Linked DNA regions of Homo sapiens: region 2 is linked to region 1. Evidence: fine-mapped expression QTL. A gene starts in region 1. The other region holds a variant in brackets. All regions are shown on one strand. Distances are between the middles of the regions. Region 1 holds the start of RHOH (ras homolog family member H). Region 2 has its middle 27 kb from the start of LINC02265.

The links. PIP is the estimated chance that this variant, and not a neighbour inherited with it, causes the effect. A credible set is the group of variants that fine-mapping cannot tell apart.
Region 2: its variant is the best candidate, but not a certain one, in a credible set for the expression of RHOH in whole blood (INTERVAL, PIP 0.57).

What each region holds. Positions count from the first base shown.
Region 1 is chr4:40,195,725-40,198,642 of GRCh38, forward strand. It overlaps RHOH (ras homolog family member H), which reads left to right and starts at 1,307. Exons shown (of 3, transcript NM_004310.5): 1 at 1,307-1,576. RefSeq lists an enhancer at 2,280-2,379.
Region 2 is chr4:40,278,759-40,281,676 of GRCh38, forward strand. No RefSeq gene overlaps it. Among named protein-coding and RNA genes, the nearest start is that of LINC02265, 27 kb to the right of the region's middle. The variant T/C (reference allele first, on the strand shown) is at 1,429.

The DNA of each region.
Region 1 (2,918 bases):
TGTGAGCCACCGCCACTGCACCTGGCCTCCCACAGAGGATTTTCTAGGAGATAATGTGCTCTTCAGAAGGCTCGAGGATCTCAGCTGGCAGATTGAGTTCTTACTGTGCATTAACAAATTGACACATGGGTTCATGTGGAAGTCTTGTGAACTTGGTAATTGGGTGTCTATTGATAAGAATGCTCACCTTGTACCATTGATTCCCTCTACAACTATGCTGCAAGCACAGTCATCTGCTTTCACTTCTTTGAACATGCCAACCTCTTTCCCACCTCAGGGCCTTTGCACATACTATTTGCCTCTACGTGGAATGTTCTTTCCTCCTTCTCATCCATTAGAGTGGCAGCAGTACTTTAGAATAATCAGAGGGGTTTAAAATAATATTGATGTCCGGTCCCAACCCAGCTCAATTAAACTCAAATCTTTGAGTGTGGGGCCGATGCACTGATAAAATAAAATAAAAGGCATGGAGTTGACTTTATCCTTACGGTCGGCAGGTATTTTGACCAAGCTATCACCGTGAGCAGTAGCATCAACAGTTAGTTATTCAGGGATTTGGGGCACAGGCGGTTGTGACCACATCACAAAAGTTCAATTTGTTGGGTTAGGCGTTTAGCCATAACCTAAGTAGTTGCAGATGGTCTCTACACCTGGATTGCCCATTAGGACAAAACAAGTAAACTTGTGTTTTTAGGCAAATAATGAAACTCTGAGGAGTCTGAAAAAACAACTCATCGCCAGGTAACTCCCAGCCCAGGTGCTCGTCCATACAGGGGTGAACGCACGGCAGGGGGCTGCTCGAACTCTCACTAAGCCTGCCTCTGTTCTTTGCAAAATATTTGATAGTTTTTAATGCAGCAAAGCGAAGCAGACAATCCACCTCTTGTTTTCCCCAAGCTGATGGGGGGAAAGTTCTAAGGTGTTGTTTCCTAAGCTCAAATTAACCAAGATTGGTCAGTGGCATGGACTTTTTTTTTTTTTTTTTTTGGTAATTTTACTTCCATGAGGAATCATTTGGACTCTTCAGTCTTCCTTTCTTCAGTTTTACGTAGGGCTTTGCTGGAGGAAAATGGGGCTAAGGGGGAGAGAAACATAGTCTCGGAGTAGGGTGGGGGATAAATTAAACGCAAACCCAGCGGTGCGGCAAAGGCCTTATTCTGCCTCTGATCTGGGGAAGTTTCATATTCTAATGGAGAGAAACGCACGTGCACACACACCCCCCTAAACCCACACAAATGAAACCCCCTCTGCGGAGAAGCCGGCTACAGGAAATTGACTTAGGCACAGGAACTTGCTAATCTCTTTTGTCACATTCGGATTGCTCCTGCTGCCCCACACACACTAACCCAACCATCTTGGGGTGGACTCCCTGCCAGCCCAACTGTTGTATTTTCAGTTCTTCCAGTGTGAATCAGTTAATATTCTCGGGAACGAGGGAGAGGTTGATCCTATGAGGAAATCAACCACAGTGAAAAGGCTTGGGCCGCTTTTGTTTTCACCTGCTTTTGTTGAACAAATTTGATTTCCGGAGTCAGTCATTTTACTGTCAAGACATTTCTTCGGCATTCTGCAACAGGTAAGGATTTTGCTTCCTTAAAAGTATTTCTTTGGTGTCAAAAGAAATTTTTCTAATTTTATTTAGCTTTTACTCTAGGCCAAACATCGTAATGACTCTGAGCTACCTGCTGTAAGGTGTAGAATCAATTTACAGGGGGACGGGGGTCGGGGGGGTGAGTGTTGCTTTGATATTCACTGCCCCTCACCACAGTCCTAACAAGATTTTTGAAACATGAAAAGTTACAATAGTTGGCTTTTTGGTTTTCCAGATATTCTAGAGAATGCATATGCTTGTGACTGTGGCTGAGCTCAACTGTATGGGTAGTTTAAATACTACCCAAGGTTTGATGAAGTAAATCTAAAGATGCTCTAAGTTGTGCAAATATGAATTTTAAAGTTGTCTAGTTCAGAAAAGAAACAGAACCGAAGTCTAAATGATGTAGATTTCAATCTGGAATTTCTAGCTTGTGTTTTTCACCTATTGCCAATGTTAATGACCATTTCCCAAAAGTGCTCTATGATGTATAACATGTATTTTTTAATTAAATTTAATCTTTCTTCTGAGGTGGTTTGATTTGGAGATATGCTACGAGGTACCAGTCAGTAGCCTGAGTTGTAACTAAACAAAGTTTGGGAAATCACCGGTTTTAGGTGCTTTACTAAATGAAAGTTGCCATTGACGTATTCAAGCAGGCAACAAGTAGTTGGTGTCCCCTTATTGGTTCTAAGCTGGTGCCGTGGAGGATATAAGAGAAATATTTTAAAAATCTCTACTTTGAAGGACCCTATAATCTGGTAGTTGTGATAAGAAGTAAAATTTAGGAAGCAATGCAAGATGAGAATTCAGTGATGAGTGGGGCAGCACAGGCTTGAAGAGTTCTGTGAATTCCATGGAGGGGGCCTGGGGGCAAACTGGAGTTGTCAGGAAGATCTGGGCTTTGGAAGAATGCGAAGTGTCGGTAGAAGGAGAAGGGGCAGGTGATTTCAGACTGGGAGGACCTTGTGGGCAAAGGCACAAAGGCGAGACTGACCTGGAGATGATAAGGCCAGTTGAAGAGACACTGGAGAAGAGAAGACAGTTTGTTTTACACATTGCAGGAAATCAGATTAGACAGTTAGGGTGTGGACACAAAAGCGAGGACCTTGCAGGCACTGGGGAGAAGTGACCCCATTCAATAGTCCTTGGTCTCCTTCTGCCCTGCGGCTGCGCTTCCTCGGCTCTCACGGCACCAGCAGAATTCCATGTGAGAGGGAGCTTGTCGAGCGTGGCCTCTTCCCACTTGGGGCTGCTTTCTGCATCCCTGTGCCTGGCTGTGGGCCTCCATTTGCCCTCTACTGTCTTCCCTTAGGACATCATTTAT
Region 2 (2,918 bases), 83 kb after region 1:
ATAATCTTGGCTGGGTGCGGTAGCTCACACCTCTAATCCCAGCACTTTGGGAGGCTGGGGCGGGTGGATCACATGAGGCCAGGAGTTTGAGATCAGCCTGGCCAATGTGGTGAAACCCCATCTCTACTAAAAACACAAAAATTAGCTGGGCATGGTGGTATGCACCTGTACTCAGCTACTCAGGAGGCTGAGGCAGGAAAATTGCTTGGACTCAGGAGGTGGAGGTTGTAGTGAGCAGAGATCGTGCCACTGCACTTCAACCTGGGCAACAGAGCAAGATTCCATCTCAATAAATAAATAAATAAATAAATAAATAAATAAATAAATAAAATAATAATAATCTCCTTTAAAGTTAGCTTTGATTGATAACAACATGCTGAAACAATGTGAAGATTAGAAAGATTTTTAACAAGGGAAAGGAACAAAAGTAGCTTTATTGAACATCTATCAGGGCAGTAGTAGGCACAATGCATGGATTTAGTTAGTAAGTGGCAAAACTGGGATCTTAACCCTGGCAGTCTAGCTCTGGAATTTATGCATTAAACCCCAATGCTGGCCGGGCACGGTGGCTCAAGCCTGTAATCCCAGCACTTTGGGAGGCCGAGGCGGGTGGATCACGAGGTCAGGAGATCGAGACCATCCTGGCTAACACGGTGAAACCCCGTCTCTACTAAATATACAAAAAATAAGCCGGGCAGGCGCCTGTAGTCCCAGATACTCGGGAGGCTGAGGCAGGAGAAGGGCGTGAACCCAGGGGGCGGAGCTTGCAGTGAGCCGAGATCGCGCCACTGCACTCCAGCCTGGGCGACAGAGCGAGACTCCGTCTCAAAAAAAAACAAAAAACAAAAAAACCCCAATGTTATTCGCTAAACCTAACTTAATCCTTAAAGAATCCTCTGATGCATATGTGTTTAACCTCATTTTTACAGACGAAGCCTGAGGGGATTAAAACAAGAGCTCAAACTGAAGTGTATCTAGAAATTAAGCAGGTACAGGGAGTCAGAGTAAGAACATACAGTCATCCTTGGTATTTGTAGGGGATTGGATCCAGGATCCCCAGCCCAGGATACTAAAATTCAGGGAGGCTCAAGTTCCTAATATAAAATGGCATGGTATTTGCATATAATCTATGCATTTCCTACCATATACTTTAAATCATCTCTAGATTACTTACAGTACCAAATACAATGTAAATGTTATGTAAATTGTTGTTATACTGTATTGTTTAGGAAATAACGACAAGAAAAAAAGTCTGTGCACATTCAGTACAGATGCAATATTGTTTTCCAAATCTTTTCTATCAATAGTTGATTGAATCCATGGCTGCAGAACCCATGAAGATGGAGAGCAATCTGTAAATTTTTCCTCCACTTTCTAATTTTTCTTAGACTACACAGTTCTCTCAATCTCTTTTGGTATACAAATATG[T/C]ATAGTCATTGAGATGATAGTGGTTGGCATGCAGTTGGAAGTTGCAAAATTCATGCCTCATCTCAAGGGGCTACTCAGCCCCAGCTAAGATTTTTTTTTTCTTTTTTTGAGATGGGGTCTCACTCTGTCACCCAGGCTAGAGTGCAGTAGCATGATCACGGCTCACTGCAGCCTTGACTGCCTGGGCTCAAGCAATTCTCCCACTTTACTCTCCCAAGTAGCTGTGACCGCAGGTGCATGCCACCATAACTGGCTAATTTTTATTATTATTATTATTATTTGTAGAGACGATGTCTTGCTATGTTGCCCAGGCTGGTCTCAAAGCGATCCTGGGCTCAAGCGATCCTCCAGCCTTGGCCTCTCAAAGTGTTGGGATTACAGGTGTGAGTCACTGTGCCCAGCCCCAGTTAAGTGTTGTGATGAGGAACAGCCGGCCCTACATGGCCAAGTGTTTCAGTTAGTTATTGTTATGTAACAAACTACCCCCAAAGCTCAGTAGCTTAAAACAATAGGCACTTATTATTGTCTACAACCTATGAATCAGGTGGTTGGGCCTTCTACTCTTGGCTGGAATTGCTCATGCATGTGTGGTTAGCAGGTGGGTGAGCGGTGGGCTGGCTTTGCTAATCTTGGCTAGGTCCCTTCACATGTCTTGAGTCTTGGCTGGAACAACTGAGACAACTTGGTATGGTCTCTCATCCTTCAGCAGGCCAGCCCAAGGTTGTTCACATGGGGTCTTCAAAGGTTCCAAGAAAGAAAGAGAGGAAGTGTACAAGGTCTCTTAGGTCCAGGCTCAGAATGGAAAAACTATCATTTCTGTCACATTCTATTGACCAAGACAAGTCACAAATCCAATCCAGAGACAAAGGAGGATGATATATTCAGCCTTTATGGGAAGAACTGAAAGCGATGTTGCACAGTGTGTAGACAAAGAGAGGGGTGAAAAATTGAGGCCATTATTTTTTTTGCCTCAATCTACCATAAGTCTTCCAAGTTTTCAGAAGCCAGAGATCCAGATCTTTATGTGAAATCTCCCAAGTTTTAAAAGCTTCATCGAATTTACAAACTTTTAAGACACTGGGGGGTCAAAGAGATCATATTAGAGCTGGATGTGGTTTGTGGGCCATCGGTTTACAACCTCTGGGTAAATAACTTGCTCAAGTTTCTGTAGTAATTTGCTGAGGAGAACTGAACTTAGGTCTATCTAGACTCTAGGTCTCCATTCATTCAGCAAACATTTGCTTGTCTTCTGAGTATAAGACTTTGACAAACAATGATAAATAAATCGCAATTCTTCCCTTAAGGGGCTTACAGTTGGAAGTGGGAGACATTATGTAAATGAACACTTTCTTCATGTGATTCAATGTTACAGATGCTTGTTGTGGGGCACACTTCTTCCCTCCCCTGAAGGGAACTTCACTGATATAACTCGGAGTCTCTTTCTTTGCCCTTTTATACATTCCACACCCTGGAAGTGGAGTGATATGGTT